6 separate regions of the Homo sapiens genome follow, and regions 2, 3, 4, 5 and 6 are each reported to be linked to region 1. Evidence: microRNA targets listed by miRTarBase, many of them from high-throughput screens and not tested one by one. Region 1 holds a microRNA gene; each other region holds the end of a gene's coding sequence.

Evidence for each region. The annotated mature microRNA hsa-miR-29b-3p reads UAGCACCAUUUGAAAUCAGUGUU and lies in region 1 at 3,702-3,724, shown strand. An mRNA with a match to its seed (bases 2 to 7 or 8) in the 3' UTR can be bound and repressed. Matches are read on the target gene's strand: a 7mer-m8 pairs with bases 2 to 8, a 7mer-A1 pairs with bases 2 to 7 and ends in A, and an 8mer does both.
Region 2: the mRNA of DSC2 is a reported target of hsa-miR-29b-3p. Seed matches in the 3' UTR shown: 7mer-m8 at 1,311-1,317 and 7mer-m8 at 3,885-3,891.
Region 3: miRTarBase lists IFRD1 as a target of hsa-miR-29b-3p. Seed matches in the 3' UTR shown: 7mer-m8 at 1,820-1,826.
Region 4: the mRNA of PPP1R13B is a reported target of hsa-miR-29b-3p. Seed matches in the 3' UTR shown: 7mer-m8 at 4,087-4,093.
Region 5: the mRNA of AQP4 is a reported target of hsa-miR-29b-3p. Seed matches in the 3' UTR shown: 7mer-A1 at 2,243-2,249 and 7mer-A1 at 3,653-3,659.
Region 6: the mRNA of COL6A3 is a reported target of hsa-miR-29b-3p. Seed matches in the 3' UTR shown: 8mer at 4,088-4,095.

The regions. Positions count from the first base shown.
Region 1 is chr1:207,801,100-207,806,173 of GRCh38, reverse strand. MIR29B2 (microRNA 29b-2) reads left to right here and starts at 3,651; the gene lies at 3,651-3,731. It overlaps MIR29B2CHG (MIR29B2 and MIR29C host gene), which reads left to right. Exons shown (of 6, transcript NR_135299.1): 5 at 77-169; 6 at 3,512-4,656. It overlaps MIR29C (microRNA 29c), which reads left to right and starts at 4,235; the gene lies at 4,235-4,322. RefSeq lists an enhancer at 1-507.
Region 2 is chr18:31,063,843-31,068,916 of GRCh38, reverse strand. It overlaps DSC2 (desmocollin 2), which reads left to right. Exons shown (of 16, transcript NM_024422.6): 15 at 1-23; 16 at 705-5,074. The coding sequence ends at 902. Among named protein-coding and RNA genes, the nearest start is that of DSC3, 24 kb to the right of the region's middle.
Region 3 is chr7:112,475,121-112,480,194 of GRCh38, forward strand. IFRD1 (interferon related developmental regulator 1) reads left to right here. Exons shown (of 12, transcript NM_001550.4): 12 at 310-2,083. The coding sequence ends at 399. Among named protein-coding and RNA genes, the nearest start is that of LSMEM1, 3.3 kb to the right of the region's middle.
Region 4 is chr14:103,730,959-103,736,032 of GRCh38, forward strand. PPP1R13B (protein phosphatase 1 regulatory subunit 13B) reads right to left here. Exons shown (of 17, transcript NM_015316.3): 16 at 5,045-5,074; 17 at 2,237-4,237. The coding sequence ends at 4,196. ZFYVE21 (zinc finger FYVE-type containing 21) reads left to right here. Exons shown (of 7, transcript NM_024071.4): 6 at 1,662-1,804; 7 at 2,025-2,706. The coding sequence ends at 2,060. Among named protein-coding and RNA genes, the nearest start is that of ZFYVE21, 18 kb to the left of the region's middle.
Region 5 is chr18:26,851,758-26,856,831 of GRCh38, reverse strand. AQP4 (aquaporin 4) reads left to right here. Exons shown (of 5, transcript NM_001650.7): 5 at 343-4,789. The coding sequence ends at 621. Among named protein-coding and RNA genes, the nearest start is that of AQP4-AS1, 11 kb to the left of the region's middle.
Region 6 is chr2:237,320,514-237,325,587 of GRCh38, forward strand. It overlaps COL6A3 (collagen type VI alpha 3 chain), which reads right to left. Exons shown (of 44, transcript NM_004369.4): 43 at 5,047-5,074; 44 at 3,505-4,301. The coding sequence ends at 4,261. Among named protein-coding and RNA genes, the nearest start is that of COL6A3, 91 kb to the right of the region's middle. RefSeq lists an enhancer at 3,995-5,074.

The DNA.
Region 1 (5,074 bases):
GCAAGACATTCCCCTTTTACAAAAGAGCCTTCCCCAGGCCCCTCTCTCACCAAGATGAGCTCTTCCTTGCTGCCAGGAGCCCTGAAATCAGCATTCCCAGAGGAAAGAAGATGGCCATCTGGGCTTGGCTTCCGGCTCCCCCCATCTGGCTGGAACACACATCAGTCACGTAAGTAGCTGTGACTCAGCACCCAGCACTGCCTTGGCAGAACCTTCCCACGTTCTGGATTTGCACACACTGTGGTAGCGCAGCACAAGCAAGCAGGGTTAGGTAACTGGGGACCAGTGTCTGTTTGTTCAGTGGGTTTGCCTATGGATTTCAGAAAGAAGGATTCCCTCACCTTCCCATTTTCCTCCCATGTTATTTTTTAGGTACCATGCTAGGCTTTAAAGACAAAGCATCATTTATAGAATGAAGTAGAAGCTGTCTTTGCAGTCTCCAAACTATTTTTAACCAACAGCCTATAGATGGTATTTAACCCTCAGGTGTGTTTGGCCTGCACGGGTTTTTGTTTTTGTTTGAGACAGGGTTTCACTCTGTAGCCCAGGCTGGAGTGCAGTGGCACGATATCAGCTTGCTGCAACCTCTGCCTCCCGGGCTCGAGCAGTTCTCATGCCTCAGCCTCCTGAGTAGCTGGGACTACAGGTGCCACCACACCTGGCTAGGGTTATTTTAATGTATCTGATTTTGCATGCATTTAGACAAAATATGGCCTCTCCAGTTCACTGTATTTCTGCTGCATGCTGTTGCTGCTTCTCTGTCTCAGGTTTCCTGCCCAAGCCCTCCGAGCATTTGAATGTGCTGTGAGCAGCCTACCTCAGCCTCCTCTCTTTACACATGAAGACACTGAGGCCCATTCAGGGCAAGTGGCAGGTCCCTGTTCTCAGAGTTGGGGCCAAGCAGGTATTAAAACCATTGTGTTCTGATTCACTGTGTGCCCAAGCAGATTAATGCCCTGGTGTGAGGTCGAGAAGCCTCCAGGTAGAATGTGGGGACAGAAGTGGACCAGGCTAGAGTATAGCTCCCACACCTTTCCCATGCGTGGCAGCACTCGTAAGACTGACATGCCCACCCTTCTGGATGGGTGGTTTTCCTCCCCAGACAGCCCTGCCAACCCTTTCACCTTCAGCCAGTTTGTTTGGAGTCATTAGGCTGAGGTGGGTAAAACCCATCACCCTCCTTGGATGGCAGAGCTCTCAGCAGGCTGGGATTTTCATGGGCTGCCTTCTTACAGGTCTAGGTGGCCTTCAGGCATGGTGCCAGGGAAAGCAAGCCCCTTCCAGCCCTTACCAAACTAACTGGCTGCTTCCTAGTAGGGAACAGCCACCAGCTTGTTTCAGCGAAGAGTCATTGCTCAGCTGATTCTGAGAGGAGAAAACTGGTTCTGTTGGGAGGGCTGAGACCTGAAGGACCCCTTTTATCCAGTGGAATTGGAAAGGCAAAGGATTTCAATACTAACATGATTTTTTTCTCCACTTCTTTTAGAGTGTTTAATTAAAGTGATGCATTGTTAATGGCTTCTTATCTCTTCTTCCAGAGAGTAAAGAGTTAAATTTTAGAATCCAGGAGTGGGGACCCAGACTGTGGCTTCTGTTAACTCCCTCAGTGGCAGTGGCGTCCTGCTATGCACAGCCCCTCTGCTGTACTCCGAATGGTCCCTTACGGGTAGCAGGAGAGACATTAAATAATCACACTGATGACCAAGTGAGATAAGTGGTTTTTGAAGGAAAGAACTTGAGGCTGGCGAGGACCACTTAACCTTCTAGCAAGGGCTGGACTCAGGGAGGCTTTCCTGAGCTGCGGGGAGGATGACAGGTTCCCTGGAGTGGTGGTGGGTGGGGGCGGGGCTGAGGGGTGGTAGCCAAGGGAGGGTGAAGGAGAGTATTCCAGAAGAGACAACAGCTTAGGCAGGCAGGACCTCGCCATGGAGGAAGGTGCTTTCTGATCACTGCGGGACACCTGTGTGATAGCTCATAGGGAGGGGGTACTGGTAACTAAAAGTTGATAAGGAAGAGTGGCTAAAATGAAAAGCAGAAAAGTGAGAATCTCATCAAATCCCCTCATTTGACAGGATTTGGACTCCCAGTAGTAACTGTCCTTAAACACTCACTCCTGACCTTACAACCCTGGCTGTTACCTGGTTAACAAGCCCCAGGTGTTGGCTACAGGTGTCATCACTGAGAGCCCTTGTGTGCAGATCTGCCCCAGCTCTCCCACCTGTGACTGAGGCTAGCAAGTCCCCCGTGGGCTGTAGAGCCTAGCGCTGGTGTCAGAATCGCTTGTTGCAGGTTCATCTTCAGTGTCTTTCCCACAGCCACATGCTGGGGAAAGACGGCAAAGGCGCTAGAGGAGCAGGAGAACAAAGCAAGCTGCCCCAGACCACCCGGCTTTCGCAGAACCCAGATGATGCTCCTGTCTCCCCCTAAGTATAACGTGTTATGTAGTCAGTATGATCCCATTCAGTGCAGAAGTATCGCCTAGGAATTTCCTGCCCCACCCACCCTGTTTTGTTCTTAATGAAGTTCAAGAACAAAATGAGATGATAGTCAAGTTATGGAGCAGGCTGCAGTGGATACAAGGGCAGAAACACAGTCTTTGGAGTTAGACCTGGGATCTGCATTGATTGGTTGTGTGACTGCAGACAAGTTATTTAGCCTCATTAAGGATGAATTTCTTCGCAAAAATTGGAATAATACCTGCCCCATACGACTGTTGTGAGAATTAAACACCGCAACTTTTGATGTTCAAATTCTATTTCTTCTCCTTCTAGCAACACATACTGTTAGTGCCAGGAACCATAAAAATTATAAGGCTGTATCTAGAGGCCTGAAAGGAAGCTAAAATATACAGTGTCTACTCTGTCTCTTTTCTCTTGGTTATGGTATCAGAGGAAATACACATATTTTCTTAGCTTCAAACCACCAAAAAAGATGATGCAGTAAGGAGATGGGAAATCTAATTTGGAATACAGTGTGCAAATCTTATTTTCAAGCAGACTTTGAAAATAAAACTCAATTCTTACGTTAGAGGATTATCTGCTTAATACAATTATAGGGTACCAGTTTTTGAAGTCACATCGGGGTTAAATAAGATTGCAGGTTCATGGGGTCATATTTGAATGTTCTGATACTTACATATGGGGTGGGAAGGAGGAATGCATGCTTTTCTCAAGTTAAGACACATAAAAGAGTTGTCCTGGCCCAGGTGAGACTCGCCTTTGTGTAGCAGCTGGAGCTTCATTCCACAGGCAGATAGGGTGCTTGTGTCCTGATGAAGTAAGAGAATATATCTGGAAACACTTTGTGTACTGTGAAATACTATACAAATGCAGGGCAGTACAAATGTAAATATTAATGTATTTTAGTAATAATTTTAGCTTTTATTTCATCATATATAATAATTTGTAGTGACTGGTGTGAAGTTAAATAGAATTAACCTAGAATTAATGAGTTTTGTATTGCTCTCATCTATTTGAAGCATCAGCTGTGCCTTTCATGTTGCCTTGTGCAGCCCTGTGTAACCTCCTCTGTGCCTTTCCCATGGAGCACTGTGTCATATCACAAGTAGAACTACAAGAAGATATTTCTCCTCAGGGCAGAGGCTGGGTCTTCCGATTGAATCTCCCTTCTTTCTTCATTGAGATCCTCTTCTTCTGGAAGCTGGTTTCACATGGTGGCTTAGATTTTTCCATCTTTGTATCTAGCACCATTTGAAATCAGTGTTTTAGGAGTAAGAATTGCAGCACAGCCAAGGGTGGACTGCAGAGGAACTGCTGCTCATGGAACTGGCTCCTCTCCTCTTGCCACTTGAGTCTGTTCGAGAAGTCCAGGGAAGAACTTGAAGAGCAAAATACACTCTTGAGTTTGTTGGGTTTTGGGAGAGGTGACAGTAGAGAAGGGGGTTGTGTTTAAAATAAACACAGTGGCTTGAGCAGGGGCAGAGGTTGTGATGCTATTTCTGTTGACTCCTAGCAGCCATCACCAGCATGAATGTGTTCGTAGGGCCTTTGAGTGTGGCGATTGTCATATTCTGTTGGATAACAATGTATTGGGTGTCGATTGTCATGGGGCAGGGGAGAGGGCAGTACACCTGGAGGACCATTTTGTCCACATCGACACCATCAGTCTGCTCTTAGAGGATGCCCTGGAGTATTCGGCGTTGATTGCGGGGCACCCGAAATCAGACTTGCCACCTGGACTGTCGAGGTGCAGACCCTGGGAGCACCACTGGCCCATCTCTTACACAGGCTGACCGATTTCTCCTGGTGTTCAGAGTCTGTTTTTGTCTAGCACCATTTGAAATCGGTTATGATGTAGGGGGAAAAGCAGCAGCCTCGAAGCCTCATGCCAACTCTGGGCAGCAGCAGCCTGTGGTTTCCTGGAAGATGGATGGGCAGAGAATAGGGAAGGAAGATCATGCTTTTCCCTACTAACTTCTGTAACTGCATGTATGATACATTATTGCAGAGGTAAGAGATAGTTTAATGGATTTTTAAAAACAAATTACTATAATTTATCTGATGTTCTCTAGTTGCATTTTGCTGAAATGTAGTGCTGTTCTAAATTCTGTAAATTGATTGCTGTTGAATTATCTTTCTGTTGAGAAGAGTCTATTCATGCATCCTGACCTTAATAAATACTATGTTCAGTTTATCATGTCTGTGTTTTTCATCTATTATTTCCCATTCATAATTCTGTGATGATAAGAAGTGGGTCCTGAAAAATTAATTGGCTGTGCAGATCTTGCCTACTTCATAAAGAATTTGAAGTAGGTTACAGCCAGCCAGACATTAAAAATGAAGCCCATTAAGAGAAGAATGAAATTCTATGAGCCAAGAAATAAAATGAGAGAAAAGATTAGGGAAGAGAAGAAATGTTGAAGATCAAGGCTGAGGGATGCTCCCTACTGAATGGGAAAACTCCTTAGTTCCACATGGGCTGTAGACACAGCCCTTCTGCCAGCAACTGTTCCTGCAAGGAACTGGTGCTCAACTAAACATACTGTCACATGGTTCCTTGAAGGGGCACAGCACTGATTTCACTTGCATTATAAAAGATTGAGTGGTGCTTTTGA
Region 2 (5,074 bases), not on the chromosome of region 1:
TTACTCAGCCCCGTCTTGGTGAAGTGAGTTTTCCTAAGTGGCCTACAAATCTATTTTAATTTTCTTTAAACTTTATAAATAACTAACTGGATTCTGACTATAATTTTCAATTAATTATGAATCTACTAATTCTACTAATTGAAAGCTATTATTTTTCCTCAATTTTAATTTAGTTATGTTCAGATTTAAGTGGTTATTTACTTCCCCTCCTATTTTTTTAATTGAAAGAATTACTAAATAATGTGTGATGAGATTTAAATTACTGTCTCATGGCTTTGTGCTAATATTTCCCATCTGACAACTTGTACCTTAGAAACCAAAAATGTGGTACCAGCAAGACCAGCATGTACTATCACTATGTCTATCTGGGAAGAACTGAGCCCATATCAATTTGTCTTCAGTTTAATGGATGCATGTCACTTTCAGCTAAAATTTTGAAAGGGAAAGTAGTGACTATGTAAAATGAACACCTGTATACTTGCTGCCACATGCGTGACTTTTAGAAACATGCTATACTGAATTTATAGTGTGATGTATGAAACAGACCAATCATGTGCATTTTTTATGTATAGGAATCCATTAGAGGACACACTCTGATTAAAAATTAAACAATGAAAGGTAAATCAAAGCAATTACTTTTATGTTAGTAAATTTTGGTGTTTAAAATAATAATAATAAAAACGTTGTGTTTTTCCCCTTGGCAGAAAGTGTATCTGTGTAATCAAGATGAAAATCACAAGCATGCCCAAGACTATGTCCTGACATATAACTATGAAGGAAGAGGATCGGTGGCTGGGTCTGTAGGTTGTTGCAGTGAACGACAAGAAGAAGATGGGCTTGAATTTTTGGATAATTTGGAGCCCAAATTTAGGACACTAGCAGAAGCATGCATGAAGAGATGAGTGTGTTCTAATAAGTCTCTGAAAGCCAGTGGCTTTATGACTTTTAAAAAAAATTACAAACCAAGAATTTTTTAAAGCAGAAGATGCTATTTGTGGGGGTTTTTCTCTCATTATTTGGATGGAATCTCTTTGGTCAAATGCACATTTACAGAGAGACACTATAAACAAGTACACAAATTTTTCAATTTTTACATATTTTTAAATTACTTATCTTCTATCCAAGGAGGTCTACAGAGAAATTAAAGTCTGCCTTATTTGTTACATTTGGGTATAATGACAACAGCCAATTTATAGTGCAATAAAATGTAATTAATTCAAGTCCTTATTATAGACTATTTGAAGCACAACCTAATGGAAAATTGTAGAGACCTTGCTTTAACATTATCTCCAGTTAATTAAGTGTTCATGTGGTGCTTGGAAACTGTTGTTTTCCTGAACATCTAAAGTGTGTAGACTGCATTCTTGCTATTATTTTATTCTTGTAATGTGACCTTTTCACTGTGCAAAGGGAGATTTCTAGCCAGGCATTGACTATTACAATTTCATTTTGGTGGAGTTTAGTTTTAGGTTTTATTGTATATAAAATCCTGCACTGAATCTGTGTCTCCTCTGTTACCTACTTTTGCCAGTGAAATTTAAGTTTTAAAATACTTTCAGAATGTATTTTTACTACTGCAAGTTTTTGGTCTTTAAAATGTCAAGTAGCATCTCTCTCTTTCTCTCTGTCTCTTTCTGTTTCTCTCTCCAGTTTTTTTTTTTTTTTTAATTTCCATATGGGCTAAAGAATCCAAATATTTTAAAAATCTGTCTCTCTTTTCTTCTCTCATAAAGTGAATTATTCCTTTTTTTTGTTTTATGTAAGTGTATATATTCTTAGTTTTTCTTGAAATCATTGTAATGTTAACTTTGTTGTTTCAAATATCTTGGTGATTGCTTCATTATCTCTTCAACAAAAAAAACCTTTAATTTTGCCATTGAAACTGTAGAACTATGCCATGCTTTTATTAGAAGCAGTGCTCTGTGTTAACAACAAGAATGGTGTAATTAGAATTGGGATGTGGATATTTACTGTATGACAACACATTTACAGTTCTGTAATGCAAGGATGCAGTTTAAAAATGTGAAGTAGTGATGGTTTTTGAAATAAGCTTTAAAATATAGGGATCTTGAAGGCTCCCTGGGGTAACTATTTTATAACTTAGATAAAATGGCTAGTCATATCTGTGTGTTTGTAAAGTTATTTTTTTAATATTTTAAGATTACAATTTTAACAAATGTAGAAATGAGCCAAACTATTTAAATTTTAAAACAGTAAAACAAAATGAAACTTAATAGCTCACAAAATTCCAGTCCATGTTTCATGACTTATTTTAGTCAATGAATTTTCTATTTATACTAAACATATGGACATTTTAAATGTGTTTCTAATATTTTTGATTATCTATAATGTGCCTGTCTTCAATTCACAAGATTGGGTTATAACAATTATTTGCCAGATTAACACTAGGGAATTATTTGATAACCAGCTTATCTTATCAGTAGTTTTATTGCTGATCAGGCAAAAATAGTTTTCCAAAGTTATTTTTAATAAAGTATATACAAAATTCTTATATATTACTAGTCATGATAAAGTAAATTAAGCAGTTTTTAAAACTTAGTGTGAGTTTGTTCATCACAGGTCTGATATGAGTTTAAGGGATTTCGCACTCCCTGAATCAGAGAAGTAAGACCCCTTCCTTAGATTCCTGTTATACATTTTTTAAAATGTAGAGTTTGTTTTGGAGACATTTTCAGTGCATTGTTATTGCCATATTTATATAATATGACTATTCTAAAGGCTGTGAGGCCATGGGGTATTGGTTAAGTTGCTTGCTTTTGCTTTGTCCATTTTCATCATTTTAAAATGGGGGATAATAACAGAACTTGTTTCCTAGGGCCATTGTAAGTCACTTGAATAAAAAATAGTTTTGAAGCATGAGAGTCATACAGAGCGGTCCACCTAAAAGGCACTCCTGATAATAATAAATGATTTTAAACAAGTCACATGTACAATTCATTTCATGTTAACAAAAGGTCAATTAAGACAATAAGATACTGAAAAGATTTTTCTTTTCACTGTAGAACATGTCTCTTCATAATGATCACCTGATGACTGGGTCTTGTATGTTCAGTTTTTCAGAATACGTAGTGCAAAGATTGCTGAGGCATTCGTATGGGATTGCCTGGTTTGAAACACTGTGAAACTGTAAGGTTCAAATTGGATGAAAAGCAGAACATCTGCTTCTTAAAATGGGCACTAATTCTAACACCCTATGAAAATTATGTGTATTTTAGATTCTCCCTGTCAATCCCTTCCTTGGCTTCTTCCCTAGCTGTCCAGCTAGACATTAGCAGTCACTTGCCTGGGAGGTCATGGCTGTTTGGCAGTCGTCATAGTAACCCCAAGTGCTAAGACTTCCAAGTAAGAGTGTCTTGATGCAAATTCCGGCTCTATCCTTACTAGCTGTGGGATTTGAGAAGTCACTTAAGCTTTCTGTGCTTAGTTTCCTTACTTATAGGACCTGTACTGAGGAGGGTAGAGGAGTCTACTTGACAGGGCTTTGTCAGAGTTAATTCATGAAAAGAGTTGGCATAGAGTTAGCACTCAATCATGTACCTTAGCCACTGCTATTGTTCTATGAGCAGAGAACGCCTGAGTTGGGAACAATTTAGCTTCAGTCTCCACTCTGCTTTACTGCTGACATCTTGCCATGATGCTCTTATTCACCTTTCCCAGAAGCCCGACCAGTATTTCACCAGTGATGGCCTTTGGGAATTTCATGGCTCATAGTAGCTTCCAGGTCTCTCATTTGTGGTATTCAGCAAGTTACATCTTATTCATCCCTAGCCAGAAGTCAGTGTGATAAATCTTGATGCTTAACTGAAAAGGCAGGTAAAATTCTCGAGGAGGCAAAATCATAAAGAGTTTCCCGAAGAAATGGCTGGTGCTTCTTCAGCAAATGAAAAGCAGCAAGATCTTCTGTTCCATGCAGTGTGTGTCTGGGGGCTCCTGGTAATCATTACTTTTTCTTTATTCCCATCTTAAGACTGTTTTTATCTTGGATCCCAATTCTGTTTTGCCAAATCTGACTTTGACTACGGGCTTCCCTTTTGTCTCCATCTCCATTCCTGGACTCCAGATTGAAGTCTTGACAACTGACTTTGCTCTGATCAGCCCCTTTAGTATCATCTCCAAAATAAAATGCTTTCCCTTCTTTGTGCCTAGAATCATCTTGTTTTTCACCTCCTTAAATATTCAAAGCCCTAAGAAGTTACCTGATATCCGTATAAACCTACAGCTCTTATATCAGCTCCCCTGCGAGCCCCCTGTTAACCTAGCACTTCAAACTCATGCAAAAAGACAAACACATACTACCACATCAAATCAGGTTCTCCTGAGTTATTTACACAATGGTGCCCTTCTTCCACTTACTTAGGCTTGAAACAGAGAATCCTTGATTCCTCTCTCTTCTTTCCATAGCATCCTCTATTTTTTGCCAAAAACTGCCAAACTTTTGAGAATTGTAGACACAATTTCATTCATTAAATACTTTGTTTGTACTGTAGTCATTTGATGCCTTCCCAGTGCAGTCATATGTAGCCTTTTAAAACAGAGACTAGAAGGACTGTGCTTCTATGAGAAAGTGCAAGATGAATCAGCCACTCTCCCCACCCACACACTTGAATGCAAGTCAAGACACGGTGGATGTAAGGAGTGGGCTAATGCCTGTAAAACACATCACACAATGCCTGGCACATAGTAAGTGCATAATGCATGTTTTTAAAAAGCTTCAGATGATGTGAAAGAACTTCAGGACACTAGTGAGTGAACTTCTGCTTCTGCTACTCCCAATCCAAGCATTCATGAGGTTGAGGTGTACCCTATGTCAGCTGTTCCCACTCTTCACTTCATTCCTGATCAATATTCCCCCCCGCCAGTACCCCAGATTAAATCTTCAGCATCACTCAGCTCCAATGGTGTTTATGCTTCCAATTTCTTCCCTCTTCTCTTTTTTCAAGGGCCATCAAAGAGCAGATATGATCATGCCATTCTGCCTAAGAGCTTTCTATAGGGTTTTAGAGGATAAATTCTAAACACAAAATCACTTTTAAATACAGATGCTTCTTGACTT
Region 3 (5,074 bases), not on the chromosome of region 1:
GCTAATTTTTTGTATTTTTAGTAGAGACGGGATTTCACCGTGTTAGCCAGGATGGTCTCAATCTCCTGACCTCGTGATTCGCCCACCTCGGCCTCCCAGAGTGCTGGGATTACAGGTGTGAGCCACCTTGCATGGCCCCTGTTAACTCTTTGTTTTTCTCCTTCATTCTTTGTGTGTGTTTTATAAACATTTAAATGTTTATAGGGTCAAATTAGTTCATTTCTTTTCTTTGTGACTTTTACCCTTTTTCTGTTTTGTAAGAATATCTTAAGTCTTACTGATGCACGTTTTTCCTTTTTTTCATTTTAGCATTTATATAACTCTGCAGCCTTCAAAGCTCGAACCAAAGCTAGAAGCAAATGTCGAGATAAGAGAGCAGATGTTGGAGAATTCTTCTAGATTTTCAGAACTTGAAGACTATTTTCTAATTTCTATTTTTTTTTCTATTTCAATGTATTTAAACTCTAGACACAGTTTTTATCCTGGATTAACTTAGATAACTTTTGTAGCAGTGGTTATATTGCTTATAATTTAATGTACAATACTATTGAAACTGGTGAGTTCTGATTATTAAATATTCTCTGTAAATCAGTAAACATGTATAAAGTATTTGTAATGTTTGGTCATAATTTATTTATGAAGACAGCAAAAGACTGATTTCATGATGGGGAAAACAATTAGCCAAAGTTTAATTTCTTACACTGTGGTTGTCAAGAATACTGATTTACTATAATGATATATACATGCAAGATATTTAACTTAATATCTTAGACAAGAGTTCTGGGTACAATTTTGGGATCTAGTTCCCCTGGAAAAGCTGCTGTATTTTTAATTTTTAATGGAATGTAGCTTTTAAAATCCTGTCACTGGCATCAACAAAAGGAATTATACCATGAGACCTTATAGCTGTACTTAAAAGCCATTCAGTTCAGCTATTGGGAGTTCATGATGAATTAGCATATGCCAGAAAGGTTGCTAACCTTAACATCTGAGAGCAGTAACACTGATTTTATCTGCTGTATGAGACTTTGTGCATTTTACTTTGAAATAAAGATTTTTTTCCACACTGAAAGTGCTTCTCTTCTAATAGAAGAAATATTATTTATGGCTTTGAGGTACAGAGTCCAAAATGACTAGGCCAGGTGGGCAGGGAGACAAAGCTTTATGTGTATATTTACAAACATTAAAGTAGATGAAAAGAATGTAGCAATACATAATTGGGATTAAGGTTTCTGACTTTCAAGAATATTTCTGCTTGGCAACATGCAGTGTGGCTCATGCCTATAATCAGCACTCTGGGGAGGCTGAGGCGGGAGGATGGCATGAGCCCAGTTTGAGACCAGCCTGGGCAACATAGCGAGACCCTGTCTCTACCAGAAATTTAAAAAATGAGTGTGGTGGTGTGTGCTTCTACTCTTTATCTACTTGGGTGCTGAGGCAAGAGGGTAACTTGAGCCCAGGAGGTCAAAGCTGCAGTGAGCCGTGATTGTGCCACTCCAGCCTGGGTGACGAGTGAGACCTTGTCTCAAAAGCAAAACAAAAAAGAATATTGCTGCTTGTTTGCCCATGAGGTATATTTCTTTCATTTTATGAAAAGCATTTTGACAACACGTTAACATTTAATAAACTTTAGATTAAAATATATAGTGCAAGCAACATGCCATTTCAAATCCGTAGACTTGTTTCTTTGATACTCTTGCTGTAGGTCGCCGTGAGGGGTAGGGAAGCATATATACTGTAGGGAGAAGTATCAAAATCATTTAAGGTCTTTTTTCCAAACTAGTGTTCCCCTCCCACATCCCAACAACTCTTGGAAGTCTGGTGCTCCCTCTAGGTGAAAATCATTTGCTGGCTTATGGAGTCACTGTTGCTGAGTCCCATCCCCCAGTTACAGTGCAGTGGAAAACAGGTTTAGAATCTAGAACTTGTTTGTATGTTGTCACTTGGTTATGTTCCAAGTAGGTTAGAACCATGGAAAAGAGATTGCAAATGGTAGTTTCTTCTAGATATTCAAATGCATATATGTATGTACATGTAATTATAAATAAATAATGAATTTTTATTAAAGTGTTGTATGAACATAGGTTTTTGTTTGTTTTTGAGACAGTCTCCCTCTGTTGCGCAGGCTGGGGTGCAGTAGCGCAATCTTGGCTCACTGTAACCTCTGCCTTCAGGGTCCAAACGATTCTCCTGCCTCAGCCTCCTGAGTTGCTGGGATTACAGGTGTGTTCCACCACACCTGGCTAATTTATATTTTTAGTTGTGATGGGGTTTCACCATGTTGGCCAGGCTGGTCTTGAACTCCTGACCTCAAGTGATCTGCCCGCCTTGGTCTCCCAAAGTGTTGGGATTACAGGCATGAGCCACCGTGCCCAGCCTGAACATAGTTTAATGGTACTTCAAGGCTAATAAGGAAAGCCCCTTGCTCCATCCTTTCCTATTCCTCAGTCCCATCCCAAGAGACATTCAGCCTTCAGTTTTTTCTAGCTCGGTTCTTTCAGCCTTCAGTTTTTGGTTTTAGGTTTCTAAATAATATGATTATACAGCCATTTATTTTTTAGGTGTTTGTCAACTTACTATTAAGACAGGTGAAAATTTCTTTTATTGTTTCACATCCTTCTAATATTATTTTGGTTAGATCATGTACCTGTTTGCATAGCTGTGATCATACTTGTATGTTCACTCGTGAATTAATTTAATGTGCTTACATTTTCATTCTCATACAACGTTTTGTCTTGGAGTTAATGCTCTTTTTTTTGGCTTTTTATGCACATCATTGATTCTTCCCAAACAGTCCCAAATAAATTTGTCACAACTTTTCTTGATTCTGTACTTGTTTCAATCTAGACTAGTTTCTCTCATCCAATTGTATAGCAGTTTTCCTGAGACAGCACTATCGTGAGGATTTGTTTTTCTTTCTCTTGAATTGTATCCCTCATTTTCTGGATCCCATGTCTTAATTTACTTCTTTGTTAACATGGAGCACTTCTTTCAGTAGTTTCTTGGGAATGAGTGCGTGAGAGATCAGTCAGTTATTTAGTGACTTCATATTTCTGAAAGATAGTTTGCATGGAAATTCTAGGTGGAAAATCAAATTTGGAATTTTTGAAAATTTTGACAAGTGTATTCAAATTCAGAATTTTGAAGGCATTGCTCTATTCTAATTTGCAAAATCTTGAGATATCTGATGCAGTTTTTATTTTTATTTCTTTGTTTTCTCAGCATCTCTGTTTCTAGTGTTCTAAAATTGCATGATACTGTGCTTTGGTGGGATTGGCAACCTGGAAAATATTAAGTTCTTCATCTCTTCTCTTCCTCCTCATTTTCTTTGTTCTGGAACTCTATGACATAGTGGAGCTCCCAAATTGAATCTTGGGCCTTATTTATTTTTTTTTTTTCTGTCTGGGATATTTCTCTAAGACAATTTTCCAATTTGTATTGCATTTTGTTTTTGGCTAGCATTAAATTACTTGCCTCTGTGTAGCTCCATGCCACACTCTTGCCTCTAAATCCTAGGCCTGCCTGAATTCTGCAGGATCAGTCCTACTGTCACTCATCTGTGATAGCCCTGCTAAGGCAGATACCACTCTTCTTACCATGTTCAATACATTTATTGAGCTCTTCAGTATTGTTTCTTCCTATTTTAATTTTTCTGGTTTTGTAATTTGTACTCCTGCTTTTTTACTGGGCTTTTGGGAGGAAGAAGGTATAGAGTGTTAATCTGCATGTTGAATTTATATGCAGGTGACTTTATTCATGAAACTTGTGGTAACTGCTAGACAAGGGTGGCTGGGTGTTCAATGTGTAAGAATGCTTGTGTTTTCTTGAAAGTAGAAAAATGTTGTGTTATAGACTAGTTGTTCATTGCTTGATTCTTGATTAATTTTGCCCGCTTTCATTATTTTGAGGCTCAAGCATTTTGAAGTATTCATTGTCTGTGACTCCTCTTTGATGGGTACTAAATTTCCTGGGAGTGAATTTAGATACCCTGAGATGTAATATATGAAAGAAAAAGCAAATACTTGAGAATGTCCCTAGATTAGACACTTCATGTGAGAATATCTCTTTTTGTGACCCAAAACTCTTTTTTTTTCTTTTGAGATGAAGTTTCGTTTTTGTTGCCCAGGCTGGAGTCCAATGGTATAATCTGCCTCAGCCTCCTGAGTTGCTGGGATTACATGCATGTGCCACCACACCCGGCTAATTTTGTATTTTTAGTAGAGATGGGGTTTCTCCTTGTTGGTCAGGCTGGTCTCGAACTTCCGACCTCAGTTAATCTGCCTGTCTCGGCCTCCCAAAGTGCTGGGAATACAGGCATGAGCCACCGCACTCGGCCCCAAAACTCTTCTTAAAGGTGGTCTTGCAGGTATGTTATAGTTAAAATGAAGTAGGTTGTCTTGCTTTGTTCTTAAGTGGCTTTCCAGAAGTCTAACTGGTCTAAAGGCAGTCTTATCCCCCTCACTGGTGTATAGTTCAATTCAGACTTGAATGCGAGGTATGGGTTTACATCTCATCTCTGCCACTTATAATCAGTGTATCCCTCAACAATTAAATTCCTTAGTCTCCATTTCCTTCCTCCTTCAGGGGAAGTTAATATTCCACAAAGTTAGAAGTTACAGGAGAGGAAAAGTAGTAAACGCCCCAAAATGAGGCAGTTACTTCTATTATATCTTCAAAGGATACATGGCTCAAGGCAGATCAGGTAGTTGGGAGATTTCTTAAAAACAGCATAATAGCTAACATGAACATTTTCATTATTCAGAGAAATTTGACATAGCTTTTTAACGTATGTTTCTGAGAAAAGTTACTAGTTATATTGTCTTCCTCCAAGAATTAGTCTTTGGGTACAGATGAGGCTTGAAAAAATGACATTCCCTCTTAGACTAGGTAGTGTGAAGGGAAAAAAAAAATGACATTCCTCTTCCCCCAAAGCAGAGTGAGGTCCGTATGGGATATAGGTGTAAAGAAAATTTTGGGCCGGGCATGGTGGCTCAAGTTTGTAATCCCAGCACTTTGGGAGGCCGAGGTGGGTGGATCACTTGAGGTCAGGAGTTCAAGACTAGCCTGACCAACA
Region 4 (5,074 bases), not on the chromosome of region 1:
TCCCCAGTGTTGGGGGTGGGGGTGCGTGCCCTAACCACAGAACCGGGCTTATGAAAGTGTGGTTCTAGAGGCCCGGCATGGTGGCCCACGCCTGTAACCCCAGCACTTTGGGAGACTGAGGCGGGCAGATCACCTGAGGTCAGGAGTTCGAGACCAGCCTGGGCAACATGGTGAAACCCTGTCTGTACTAAAAATACAAAAATTAGCTGGGTGTGGTGGTGGGTGCCTGTAGTCCCAGCTACTCGGGAGGCTGAGGCAGGAGAATCGCTTGAACCCAGGAGGCGGAGGTTGCAGTGAGCTGAGATGGCACCACTGCACTCCAGCCTGGGCAACAGAGACTCAAAAAATAATTAAAATAAAGCCAGGCACGGTGGCTCATGCCTATAATCCTAGCACTTTGGGAGGTTAAGGCGGGCAGATCACCTGAGGTTGGGAGTTCGAAACCAGCCTGACCATCATGGAGAAACCCCGTCTCTACTAACAATACAAAAAAAAAAAAAAATAGCTGGGCGTAGAGGTACACGCCTGTAATCCCAGCTACTCAGGAGGCTGAGGCAGGAGAATCACTTGAACCCGGGAGGCGGAGGGTGCAGAGCCGAGATCGCACCACTGCTCTCTAGCCTGGGCAACAAGAGCAAAGACTCCGTCTCGGAAAAAAAAAATGTGGTTCCGGGGCCTCCCAGGGGACAGCGTGTCATAGGTTGCTCAGGCCTCCAAGCACGGTCGGTGGGCCTCCGACTGCAGCCTTGGTGCCCACTCCACCAACCGGCAGAAGAGCCGGCCCTGAGTGCTGATGGGGGGATGTGTGTCTGATGGAGGGGTCTCCTGAGAGGTCAGTGATTGCCTACGATGGGGCTTCCCTCCCAAGTCATCAAGTTCATGGGAGGCTGCATCCCATGGGTCTCTTTCAACACCAGCCCTGACTGAAGAGCTGCTCTCTTCAGCAGTGTATTGTTGGAGCGAGTGCTGGAATTGAGTCATTGTCACTGGAACAGCTGGTCACCGCCCAAAGACGGGGAGCCTGGGTCCCAGAGACCAGTCCCCAACATGGGTGCTGGGTCTGGGGAGATGGCCCGTGACCAGGCTGGGGTGGCATTTCCCTGACACTGGGCCTTTGTAGTGACAATCCCCTCTGTGCTGACGCCGCTTCTCAACGGTGGGATGGCTGAGGCCTCTGACTCCTGGGTGAGGCCAGCTGTGTCCCTGACCATCTGCTTGGCCTGTCAGTGGCCAGGGCACTCTCGAGGTGGCCTCCACTCTTCCCCCAGCCCTGGGTGCAGGTGGGCACCTCTGCAGGAGCCAGTCTTGTCTGGAGGTTCTCTGAAGGCAGGAACCCCCACAGGCCCCAGGGCATAGCAGCGCCTCAATTAGCCGAGAGCAAGGCCTCTCGTGGTGATGTGGCTCTTGTTGTTTGTCCCGGGCCCTGGGGCACCCGGCTGAGTGTCTTGGTCCCTCTCCCACCCCACCTGTGAGCTTGGGGTCTCCCCTCAGAGGCCTGAGGAGATGGTGTTCCCTGGGTGCTCCTGAGCACCAGCCCTCACTGCCAGGCTACTCTTGGAGCAGCACAAGGTTAGGATGTGCTGGCCACCGCCTTGGGGCTGGTGGCCGCCTGGGCACTCAGGGCCTCCTTTGGGCCGTCTTACCTCGTCTCTCTCCTCCAGGAGGCAACGCACGGGCCACAGGCATGTTCCTGCAGTATACAGTGCCGGGGACGGAGGGTGTGACCCAGCTGAAGCTGACAGTGGTGGAGGACGTGACTGTGGGCAGGAGGCAGGCGGTGGCGTGGCTAGTGGCCATGCACAAGGTACCTGAGCCCAGGCCAGGGAGGCTGGGCCCTTTGGCTTAGACAAAAGCTTGCCTTTCCCAGAGGAAGCTCTGTGTCCTGCCATTTGCCCCCTATCCCCACAACCTGTTCCCCCTCAGCTGGGGTGCCCACGCCATCTCCCCTGAAATGCACACAGGCTTGGCTCCACCAGGCACAGGACCAAGCAGGCCTCACTGTGTTGATCTTGTCTGATCTGCAGGCTGCCAAGCTCCTCTATGAATCTCGGGACCAGTAACTCTACGTGGGGCTGAGCTTGGAGTACGTGTGGTCACCAGGACTGAGTCGCTTGGAACAGCAGAGCCTGCTCCTTGCGTACCACAGGGATTAATCCTGCTTGTGCTGGGAAATGCAACTCACTCATGTATTTGGAGAAACAGGAGTGTTCACTTATCTAGTGCAATATGTTCACAGTTTATTAATGCTTTAAACAGCTTCATGTTTTAGAATTTGTGTATTGTCAATACTTAATTGGGGGTGGGAGAGACTGAGCTACACTACTGCTAAACTATTTTTAGCATAATATATACCATTTTTATGAGTTCGCAGGTCTACTAGAAGGTTCTGGCCCATCAATATTCATTTCATTTAATTCTTCCACAGAACCAGTTTGGGCAGTAGGAACTCAGGCTTCTGGTCTGCAGTGGAGCCTGTTCGCCTCTAATAGCCAGTTTACAGCACTTGCCTTAGCCTGTTTCACAGACTTGTCCACTTACCTTGTCACTAATTTGGGGCTTCTGGGCTGTGAGTGATCCTTTGATACTTCACCAAGGGGAACGTGGGGGCTTTGTGTTTTGTACTTTTCACTCACTATTTCACTTTATTAAGATGACTGTACAGCAATTTGTATATAAAGCTTATGATTAAAAACTATTTTGAACATACGGACAAGGCCTCGCCTTCCTGTGTCCAGATCACCTGAACCCTCGTGCCACAGCGCAGTCTGGGTCCAGAAAGAAGACTCACAGCCGCCGGGGTGAGACGGGTTTATTGTGCACATTTACACAGCGTCAGCAGCGTCTGGGCTGGCAGCGGCCATGCTCCTGTGGTCGGGCTGCTCTACAAGGGCGTTCACTTTTCTTCACCACACTATGTACAGTCAGTGCTCCAAGGTGATGGGCTACAGTGCTGCATCAGTGAGTCTGTACACACATTTTTACATAAATTACACACGACTCATACATGAAAAATAGAGCCTAAGGGCCTGTATTTTAATGAGAAAAAAAAAATTTCCAACATAGTTCGGGTAGCTTTGAATGGTCTAGTCAAAAAATACTTTTGGTATATAAAAAGCCTGTACGTACAATTCACACCTCAGTGAAGCGCCCTCCTTGCCTTGAGGCTGGGCCTGGGACAAAGGTGGCCTCACAGCCAGCCCAGGCAGGGAGATCGGCAGAGAGGGGTGGCCCCTGACCCCAGCTCCTCTGCCCCAGCTGCTGCTCCTTGGTGGCGGCCCCTCCTGACACCAGGCGTCTGCCATCCTTCAGGCACCAAACAGCCCCGTCTACCTGGCCCTGGTCTGCCCTCACACCAGTCCACCCCCAGCCCCAACCCCAACCACCCTCCGCTGCCACGGCCTCCAGCACCTGACTCCATTCAGGGAACTGAATTTGAGCTTGCAGGGGTGAGAACCACACTGAGCAGCATGACAGGCTGTGAGATCGGAGGAGAAGAGTATATGCTGAGGCTCTCCCAGTTGTCACTTGGTCTTAGGGGTCCTGGTGCCCGTGGCGCGGCAGTCCAGCCACAGTGCTGGGCCTGCACAATCAGCCTTTAGGTGAACTGGAACAGGAAGCGGAACCCCCAAGGCGGCCGAGCAGAGTGGGTACTGGGAGGCATACACACTGGGCAGCAACACTGGACATGTTTCCATACAGAGGCTCCTTTGGTGATGAAGGGAAGAAGGATCATGTGTGGGAAGTGTGAGAAAGGATGAGTGTCCGATTCGGTGACGGGGGGCAGGGCGGTCGCAGGGGAGCAGGCCTCACAGCGGCGGACAGTGTTCACTGCTGGAGGGGGTGATGGCCTCGGGGCCAAGTCAGTAAGAGCTTCTGTCTTCACTGGCAACCAACCGGGGGTTATGGGACTTCTTAATGGCAAGAGGGGTGGGTGTTTTGAAAGTGGGTATTTATTTGGATTTATAGTAATTGGCAAAATTCAGTCCTTGGAGGCGAAAGTACCTCTCCCAGTTAATGGGCAAACTGGAGAAAGGGCCTCACCTGGAAACTGTAGGATTCACATTGTGGACGCTGTCTGCTAAAGTGAGCACCATTAAGACCATTTTCTAGCTGCAGCTTTCCTGGAAAACAGCACAATAATCTCTTAAGTGGCTCCTGGTAGCTGGCAAGACCATGCGGTGCTCCAAAAGGAAGTTCAGGCGAGTGTTCGCTGTCGGGGTTTGATCCGTGGATACAGCTGGGAAGCAACGGAGCCGCGTCAGGACAGGAAGCCACACACAGGGAGCAGGGCCAGCCAGACCCGACCCCTGCTCCTCACCTCAGCCACCCTGGACAGCCGTGCAGCACCCTTGTCCCTCAGGCCTACGCTCAGCTGCACCTCTACACTGAGACCCACCCAGCCCTCTTTAAAATGTGCCTTGTACCCCCAGAATATCCTATTTTTCTCACAACACTTCATGCCACCTAAAGACTTGTGACTGCCTGTGGCTCTCAAGGTCATAAGCTCCCCTGGGCAAGGGTCTCTGCCTGGCTCCCTGCTGTGTTTGCCTGGCCAAGAACGTTGGCTCAACAGCAAGCCCCTGGCAGCTCTGCAGGGCACAAAGAGAGCAGAGGCAGCTCCCTCTGCCAGAGGACTGAGGGAATCACAAGTCCAACACAGAGCTAGCAGCCTGCACGTTCCCACCTCTCCCTCCACTGGAGAAATTTCTAGGCTGCAGAGATTTCTAGATTGGGGAAAGTGTGGGTGGGCTGAGCCGGGCCACTTGGTGAAGTTCATCATGAACCGAGCTCATTGAGCGGCCCCTCACTGGGGCACTCAGCCTCCGCACGGGCCTCCATGGCATAAGCATGGCTGGGGGAACCTCCTGGGGCCCTGCCTGAGCCTCATGCCAGCTCTGCCAAGTAGGCACCTCCCCCTCTACAGAGGGGGCTGCTGAGGCTCAGAGAAGCGAAGCCTCCCTCCCCAGCCCCACAGCAGGATAGGACCGCATGCTGTACAGAGACACGGGCAGCTAGTTTCCCAGTAAGTAACCTGAGTGCTCACCCCCAGCAGGTTTTTGGGCACATAGCCCTC
Region 5 (5,074 bases), not on the chromosome of region 1:
TTATTTTAGTTAAAGAATTCTTAGTGCGCTTAATTTGTAGTACCACCAAAGAGGATCTATCTTTACATTAACGATTATCATAAGATGGAAAGAACATAATTAATGAAAAGAGGATAGGAGATGAAACAGTTCTTTTTGTTTTCTGTTCAAATGCAGTTTAATAATTTATGGATCTCTGATGAGGCTTTGGTGTGTTTTCTTATTTCCTCTCCAATTCCCCTCTTTTTGATGCATGACACAAATACACTCTTAATTTAACCCAGCTAGATTCTACATTCATGAGCTGCTCAATGGAATAGCTTTTCTCTACTTACACTCTATCCTCTTCCATCTTTTCCTTAGATATATTGGGTTGGGCCCATCATAGGAGCTGTCCTCGCTGGTGGCCTTTATGAGTATGTCTTCTGTCCAGATGTTGAATTCAAACGTCGTTTTAAAGAAGCCTTCAGCAAAGCTGCCCAGCAAACAAAAGGAAGCTACATGGAGGTGGAGGACAACAGGAGTCAGGTAGAGACGGATGACCTGATTCTAAAACCTGGAGTGGTGCATGTGATTGACGTTGACCGGGGAGAGGAGAAGAAGGGGAAAGACCAATCTGGAGAGGTATTGTCTTCAGTATGACTAGAAGATCGCACTGAAAGCAGACAAGACTCCTTAGAACTGTCCTCAGATTTCCTTCCACCCATTAAGGAAACAGATTTGTTATAAATTAGAAATGTGCAGGTTTGTTGTTTCATGTCATATTACTCAGTCTAAACAATAAATATTTCATAATTTACAAAGGAGGAACGGAAGAAACCTATTGTGAATTCCAAATCTAAAAAAAGAAATATTTTTAAAATGTTCTTAAGCAAATATATACCTATTTTATCTAGTTACCTTTCATTAACAACCAATTTTAACCGTGTGTCAAGATTTGGTTAAGTCTTGCCTGACAGAACTCAAAGACACGTCTATCAGCTTATTCCTTCTCTACTGGAATATTGGTATAGTCAATTCTTATTTGAATATTTATTCTATTAAACTGAGTTTAACAATGGCAAAATACAGTATGTCACAGTCATGCACATTCAAGAGAGAAAATATAACAAGTTCTTTTATGAGCAATCCCTTATGCATAGACTACCTTGGCAAAAGAGCATTAGCAAGTGTCACTGCTCATCAGTTACTTCCTTCCATTTATATCACAAATACCCAAGTTTCAATTCTAACTTCATTTCATGGTATTTCTTCCTCCTCAATGCCCAAGGTAATGTGGGACTAAAGCCCAGAAATTTGAAAAGAATATTCAGAAATCCTTCCCAAATCATAAGGGCACCTATTGAGATTCAAGACAAGCAGACTCGTAAAATCTTGTAGAGGCAGAGGCAAAGTTATCATCATACAAAAATCACAAACAAAAAGGAGATCTGTATTCGGGTATCAAACGGTTGATCTGTTTTCAGTGCACACCCTCAAATGCACCACACCAGTTTTACGATCTAAGCTTTTAACCCCTTTACCACTTTGCTTATTTTTAAAAAATTTATTGGCAAAACTGGGGATTTTGTTTGTAACTTTGGTTATCTATATTTAAACATTAGCTGAGACATATTTTTGATAACAAGAACTTAGCTAGTTGAGTCCTGGCTTTTTGTTGATTATTAAGCTGTGTTCACTCTAGAAGGTGTAAAGGCCCTGTCCCAATCTCTGCTCTCTCACTTCTCGTGACATTTGTTGATAATCTTTACTGCAAGTGTAATGATATTTGAGTGAATTAAAATGCATGACAGACAAGGTACAACATGGTTGCAGAATAAAAGGGTGAGGACATCAGATCACTCTGTATTCAAAGCTTACTAGACGAACAATCTTTCATTTCTGGATATATTGTAGCTAACCCAACACATTTTTAAACTATTTTTGTTACTGACTCACTTACTTGTCAAAATAATTGGTTTTTCTGTCCTGCTTTGCCTTTTGTCACTAGAATGTTCTCCAGAAACCCCAGTTTCTGTCATCTTAACTGTCTAGTCTAGCCGTTAACTTAGACAAAGAAGTGCAAATGTCAATTTCACTAAACAAAAGCTATTAGAAGTAAAGCAGAAACCTATCACTGCAAGGAGTGACTTGTAAATAACTGATGATCAAGGGCTGTCTTCTCTCAAGCATGGTTCCAACTCTGTGTCACTTTTTAGCGTTAATGGCAGTTGTGTGTCTGTGGCAGTGAGATAATGGACCACTATTAAACCTGATTCTCTTCGGTGCTAGGAAAGAGTGATGTGTGAGATTCCCAGAGAGTCGTCACACCAGTGTTATGCCTGGGAGTGCCACTGGCATACCGCAGGTGCCTAAATCCCAGGCCCCTTTCTCAGGGGGCGTGGCCACACCACACACTGCGCCAGTGACACATAGTTACTTCCTGGCTGGGACGGCACCTATAGAAACTAGGGTACAAATCTCCCAAAGATGGTTTGCACCGTCATTTCAAATGTTTGCACAATATACCACTTAGAGGCTTAAAATCAGGGTGGTTCAGTTCAAAAGGTAATATCAACCGTCAGCAAACATGTCAGTTTAAAAATAAGTTCGGTTAACAAGGAAGTGTTAAGCAGATTTTTTGAATACACTTACAATATACTGGCTTATAATCATTTTTATTCTGCCATATGGTTTATTTCATATACACTCACTTTTACACTCACTTCCAATTATAGCATTCAATAAGTTACGGTTAAAGAAAAGTGAATGGTGTTTTTGTAATTTGTTTTCTAGTAGCTAGCAGAGAGCCTGGCACATAGTATGTATTCAAAACAAGTGTGTTAATTAATAAAAATATATAAATCTCATTTGAGATTTAAGAATATAAATAATTTTCTTTTAATCTTTATTTTGCTCAATATTTAATAGGAAGTATGATTTCAAGGACTACTAAAGGAAGGCAATATACATGTGAAAACCATAAAATACATTTTTTGCATTCTACTATTTTTAGGGGCATGAAATGAATGAAAGCTTTAGCACTTTTTTGCCCCTACATATGAGACAACATATTTTGTATTTCACTCAAGGCTCTGCCAGTAAAAAGTAATGAAATTGTACCTTTCTAATGACATCTATGCAGCAGGGGTCTATCGCCTTGTGGATGGCACCAAATTATCCAAGTGTATTAGGAGACTGGGGCTTTTTTCTTTAATCCCTTCTTATTAATGAAGTGCATAGTGCTGCTCCCAGGAGACCACTGCTGACAGATACACAGAGAAGAGATCAGAGAGGAAAAACTGGGAAGACATAAATGAATTATACCCAGCCATGAAACAATGCCAACTGTCTCTTCCCTAAGGAAGAGTACAAGTACCCTAAAATTGAAAGGTGGTCCCTACACTGAAAACGCACATAGTTTGTCAAAAGTGTACAAAAGGGAAAGAGTCTTATTTTAAGCTTTCAGGCTTTCTTAAAAACTTGGGGACCAGAATTTCAATGTATGTTTCCATTGTTGAAGATAACATTTTCTTCAAAGAGCCTTAACCTTTTGTACTGGAAGGAAATATTTTCTGGACTTAAGTAGTTGCCTAAATTTAAGATTCCTACACTTTATTTCTGCCATTGATGCTTTTCCTAAACCCTTATACTATCTTTTTATTATCTGAGCCTTTTCCTAATGCAGCTCATAGGTGCTAGCTAGAGCTGCTGCTCAGTATTGAAGACTTTACAAGGAGATTAGAAATCTTTGGAAAACATATGTGATGAAATTGAGCTATATGATTTATCAGAGATCTGATTCCAAAGAGCACAGAATACTGTTCTCAGACCATGAAACCAGACAACACATGTATTGGTTTAAACTCGATAATGACAGGAAAATTCCAAACTAGAGCAGTAAATTCAAATGGTAAGATGAATCCTAGAAGGCCTCTGATTGCAGCATGTTGACACCAACCTCACGTTACGAACAATTCACAGAGAATTTGCCTTTGTGGCAACTGAAGATGGAAGTCTGGGGGGCACAGACAACCTTATCAAACAATATAAAAGCCAATATAAATTCTCATAAGCACTATAGAATTTGCAAATTCAGAACATTTTATACCTAAAAGTAATTCTGTCTTTCCTAAAGTGTTTTTAACATGAAAATTAGTAGGAAGATGTGGTTACTATTTGGAAAGTGTAATGTAACAAAACTCTCTTTTGTTACCACAAATTTTGTGAGTTTAGTACTCTACAGATTGCCCCATAAGAGCAGTAGCTTTTGAAACTCATAATTCTCTGAAATAAATGAAAGACATTTAATTCAAGGATCAAAAATTGTGGCCATCTTTGCAAATGACTACCTATAGCCTGTGAAAATACATTTCAAAAAATGTTATGTGCAATGAACACTAAATTTAAGAGCAGTTACAGTGTGACTCACTCATGTTTAAAAAAAATCGAAGAGCTAAAAAATACGTCTAATTTATGTAACCCATTGGAATGTATTTCTAGGTTCTCTTCAGGATTAATTAAATAAACATGCAATTTATGAAAACATATAAACAATTATTTATCACTTTTATGACCCAAATCACAATAAAATTGTCATTTAGGATAAACTGGGGAGAATAGACTGAACATATGGTTATATTCACAGTTATTTATTAACTTAAATGTTATTCCAACATTAGAGCTAATGTTAAAAAGATTTAAACTGTAACGTCTAATATTTGGAATAATATATTAAAGTATTAGCACTGTGGTTGATTTTCTTGAATTATGTTGCATCTTGTACTACTAAGCTTGTGAAAATAAACATTTGGATGTTTTAAAAGGTAAACATTATGTTTGATGAAGTTAAAAATTCATTTGTAGTTAGATCTTAAGTTCATCCTTTAGAATGATCAGCAGGTTTAGATATTTGAGTATAATCAACACCAAAGGAAATGGTGGTAAGCCCATGAAATCAAATGCATTTTTTGAAAGCCTGCAGAGTATACACCATGGGATGCCCTGATAGAGATAGTGAAAATTGTGTTTGTACAGGCTTAATTCAAAATGTCCGCATCTATGCAAAATAAACCATTGGTTATCAGCTATCATTATGGTGAATCTAAAAGTGAAG
Region 6 (5,074 bases), not on the chromosome of region 1:
TGGGTGGTGTCACCATCATGCACAGAGGCCCTTGAATCACTGGCCTTTTCCCATCACTCATGACCAAATGCCTTCAAGCTTTGACTACTAGATTCCAAAATACTACTTCTTTGGTGTTTTGGTCTTTAGCAGATTTATACCCACCATAAAGTTGGGTGGAAGACTAGGGAATACCACGGAAAAGGATTTCTGAACTGGCTCTGCATGGGATCTCAGGAATGCTGAGGGGTGGCCCAAAGCTGGAGAGCATGATTCCAAGAAAGCAGGAAGACCCCAGGAATCCCATGGCTCTTACAGCAGCTCACCATCAGTATTCATCTCCCAGGGAAGGGGAGGCACAGGCAGCGGCAAAGCTCAGACCCAAACTAAACCGAGGAGGGGTATGGCAGAGGGCAGCCTCTGGACTGGGCCCCCTGGCCTGGCAGTGTCAGCAGTCCCCAACTTCTCCGGAAGCCACACCCAGATAGGTGGAACCCTGAGAGCCTGGCTCATGAAGAGCAGCTAGGTCCAGCTGGAAATCTGACAACAATGGAAATTTGGCAGGAAAATACGAACCATCTCCTAAAAATGAACCACCATGGGGAAAGAAATTTAAAATGGTTCTTGAGGGTTCAAAACATTGGCTTTCTACAAAAAGCCTGGCACCCATTCATAAGTGCTGTGATTTCTTTTTAATTATGCAGAAAATCGTTGAGGGAATGAAAGTATAAAGCACTTGTATTTAAAAATCCAGCAAAGCTGCTGTTGAAAGGATTGAGATGTGCTCACAGTTGAGCACAAATAGACGTCCTCGTGACTCGGCCTTGGAGCCCAGGCAGGCCATACTCAGCCCAGGCCACCTTCTGCGCAAGCCCTCAATGCGTGCCAGAGCCCCCAGCTTCTCCAAGTTCTTTCCTAAGCCAGAGCAGCTCAGGATAATGAGAAGAGATGGAAAAGACTACAATGAAAGGAAGGAGAAGGATAGAGACTTGCTGTCTGAGAAAGAGTGACGGAAGGTCTTGGGGAGGGTCATGTGGAGGGCATGCTTTGTTCTGGGAAAAGACACATGGCTTAGATCTGACTTCCAGAGAAAGAGCCAGAAACATCTAGAGAATGGCAGTGAGCGTCCCACAGGAGCCAACCTTGGAACTCTGAGAGGGCTTCTGGGTCACCATAACTTGCCCAGATCCTCCATTAGAACATAGCTGGGTGAAAAGGACCACTCTGACCCTCTGTTTCATCATCTTTAAAACTGGAACAATGACCGCTACTGAACGGCACCACCTAAGATGTGTGTGAAACACCTAGTACAGCACCTGACCCACAAAGGCTTCTGGATAAAGGTGCGCTGTGTTCGTTACGGTCACACCAGCTGCTAGAACAGCCCAAGACCTCAGTCTCTTACTTCAATAGAAGTTTATTTCTTAGTCACAAAATCCAAAACAGGTTTTCTTTATTGGCAGGCCACCTTCCACGGGCCAGGCTGGAGGCTTCCCCAGAGAGAGCTGAGTGGATATGAGGGTCAGGGACATGTCAGGGTTCAAGAAAGGACACAGAGTCCTTGGCATAGTCTGGCAGAAGAATGTCTTGGGAAGAGAAATCCACGAGCTGTCAAGGGGTCAGGAATCCTGCAGCTCAGATCATGTTTTGCTGAACCCTAAGTTAGGACAGACAATGTAACAAAGGATTTTGTTTTATTTGCTCTGTGGGAATAAATGGGAGAAACTGCCCATCCACCACCTGAGCACCTTGCCTTACCCTAAGTTAGCAGCACACACAGCTTAACCAGCCACTCACCTGGACTTACATCACTTCCTGCTTCTCCTGAGTCAGGTGAGATGGTGGGTGTGATTGTCCCAGCAACCTTGAGCAGCCAAGGGACACACACAGAGAAGCAATGCATAGATAGAGTGAACCAAGAATGGCAGGGATGGGCATGCTGGCAACAGGAGGTGGAAAGGGAGAGAGGGTTCTGGAGCCCTTGGAAGTGAGTCTCCTAGTGATGGGCCCTGCCCCAGTCTATTGTAACACACCTTGAGCAGACCATCTAGGTATGTTACAAATATTGGTGTCCTACTCCTGTACCTTGGGCCTGACTACTCCCCCAAGTTCCACATGGGAGTATCTGCAGGTCTTTGCCAAGAACATTTTCTTACACTACAGAAGGCCCCTTTGCCAGTGTGCCTGCAAGCCAAGAGGACCAGAGCATGAATGCCTCAGTGACCCGTGGAAACAGGTGTATGACTACCCAAACTCCTTCAGCCCTCTGCTGGCCTACGAGGTGCAGTGCCACAGGTGCACCTCCCAGGGTTTCCCCGAGGGATTGGGCTCTGGGCACCCACAGTGGACGCTGACTATACACCTCTTAACAGTGCTCTCCCTTTGCTTGTCTCACTCCCCACTTCTCAGCCACTCAGTGACTTCCTTCACCTCCCAAATAAACTACTCACACCCATATCCTTAGTCCTAAGGGCTGCTTCCGGAGGAACCCAAAAAGTAAAACCAGATTGTGATGCTCATTTTAGGTCCATAGCAGATCAAGTCAATGGGGGTGGCGGGGGCAGGGATCCCTTGGGAAGTGGAGCACTCAGCCCACCGCTATGGGAGCTGGGCCCACAGCTCTCTGCTCCGCAAGTTCCTGCAAGAGGCTGGTGTTGGGTGCCTGGCAGATCCCAGGGTTGGTCACCAAGGGTCACAGCTCAGAGCACACTGACCTGAGCACCCCATGGTAGCTGCCGAGATAGAAGAGGACTGGGGAGGAGGTCATGGCGACCTTGTGGGGACTAAGTGGCGCTTCTGAAGAGGGCCACACTCCTCTCTCCTTTCCCAATAGACCAACTGGCAAATTCATCCCGATTTTACATAAAACATTTCTGCTGACACCCAAGATTCCTGTAATTCTACCCTCAGCACTTGTCAGGACATATGTATTTTATCCAATAAGTTGTTTCCTTTGTAAGTGGAACTCAAGTGCCACCTGAATATGTATTTGTTGGTTTCTTGTATTATTTCTGAAGAGAGAAAAAAACAGTCTTTAAGAAAAACAAAAAAATGAAAGACCTTGTGCTTTGAGACTCCAGAAAAGGGGTTGGGGGTCGTGGGGCAACACTGAATCTCTCAGCCATTGTGAGAGGAAGCAAATCAACCCCCTGGGAAAGGATCACTGTGGAGAGGAAGACAGGAGGAGGCTGAGGCTCTGAGGGCCAACCAAGAGTCAGAGGAAAAGATAGAAGCCAGCCTGACTCTGAAAATCAGAAACACTGCCGGGACCCAACAGCAGGAACACCTTCCGCTCGGCCATGGAGCACTGGAGCATGTGGGGCTGAATCCACAAAGCGGGGGATGCTTGTCTCCAGCCGGTCTCTTTGCACACTGGCTGATAAAGCTCTTTTGCCTCCTCCACTGGAAACGAAAGGCTGTTGCACAGCTCCATGGGGCCAGAACCAAACCCAGTTTCCCCAGCCTAGGGGTGATTCTGACAATCGCTGCTATGGAAACAAGACTGCCAAGAACGTCACACCCAGGAAACTTTCAATATACTTTATTAAAAAGTTTCTTTGTATAAATTTCCTAAACATTTTAAAATTAAAATTAAATCCCCTCCCTCCAGCACACACAAAAAAAAAACACACAACATTAGAGGAATGCCAAAAATATTCTCTATTACAACTTTTTTAAATTCTTTAATTAAGGCATTGGTCCCAACGGTGCACATAGATTAAGGGATTTTGCTTCCTTCTGAACTAGATCATTTGTTAGAGGCTTCAGAAAAAGAAAATTAGCTTGAAATCTAGTCTGGGAAATTGGGGGCAGGGAATGAAAAAGTTGGTCTCTTGTTTCTCCACGATACACAGGCTTCCCATCTAAAGTCATGCTTAACTAAAAGGGAAAAAAAATGAACCAAGCAAAAGTATATAGAGTAGCCGTGACATTTGCATTATTTTCTAGACTTTACATTTGCCTGCAACAGGCATAACATGAAACTCCAGAGGGAATTTGGATTGATAGGAATGTTCACATAAACACCAGCAGTGGCTAACTGTTACACAACATTCAAAGTATTCGAGAGAACTGCCTGGAGACAGAGAGCGAGGGTCCACAGACACATTAGCACCATACTGATAGGTCATGCAGCAGGATGTTCCCTCCCGAGTTCGAGTGTAAATCAAAGCATGAAATGATACAGTGCAAGGGAATCTACACCCGGAGCTTCTACAGAGACAAGTTGGCGATGGCTGACTCCTTCTTCTTCAAGAGGTATATGATGTTGGCCACCCACGCTTAGGTTCCCATCACACTGATGACTCCGGGTTTGGCGAGCACTGAGCGTCGAGAGAGGGGGTGGGTGGGGTGAGGTGAGGAGCCGAGAGAAGAGAGGAAAAGCCACATTACTGACCCAAAAGGGCACTGTCATTATCATGACACAGTCCCGCAGCCTCTGGTTTCCATCACCTGTCCCACTTTTCTACTCAGTACCATCAAAGGCCCTCTGTGACGTTCTTGGCCTGGGGCCCCGGGGCCCAGGGATGTCTGGGAAATCTGATCCCATTCTTTTGCCCTGCACCATCTACCAGGCCTTTATACGAACTGAACTCTCCCCATTCTGGCACTGACCCCAGGCTCTGTTCAAAGTGTTTATTTTATTACCAGTTGAACTGCACAATATAATGGAGATACTGGATGGCCCCAGTGACAACATTGTTATTTATAGGAAGCAAAACTATTTAAAAGATAAATTTGTGGGGGTTGTTTATCTTTGGCGTTATCTGTAGTTGTTCATTATATTATCTTCCCAGGAATCATTTTTGGTGCAATATTTTACAAATAACAGCAACTTAGTAACATTTCTGAAGAATGACAAGGGACAATATGTTTTTAGAAACCCAAAATAGGAATTCAAAAAGACATTTCATGGGTTGTATTTGAACGTCTTCCTTATCTGAGGATACACTTTATCTTCTTTTTCACATGTATCATAATCATTGCACTTCTAATATTTTTCAAGGTGACTTATTGACCTGAATCTCTTATTTGCAGAAGCCATAAACACAAGGAAGAATCACTTACCAGGAGCGCAAACCTTTTCACATTCTTT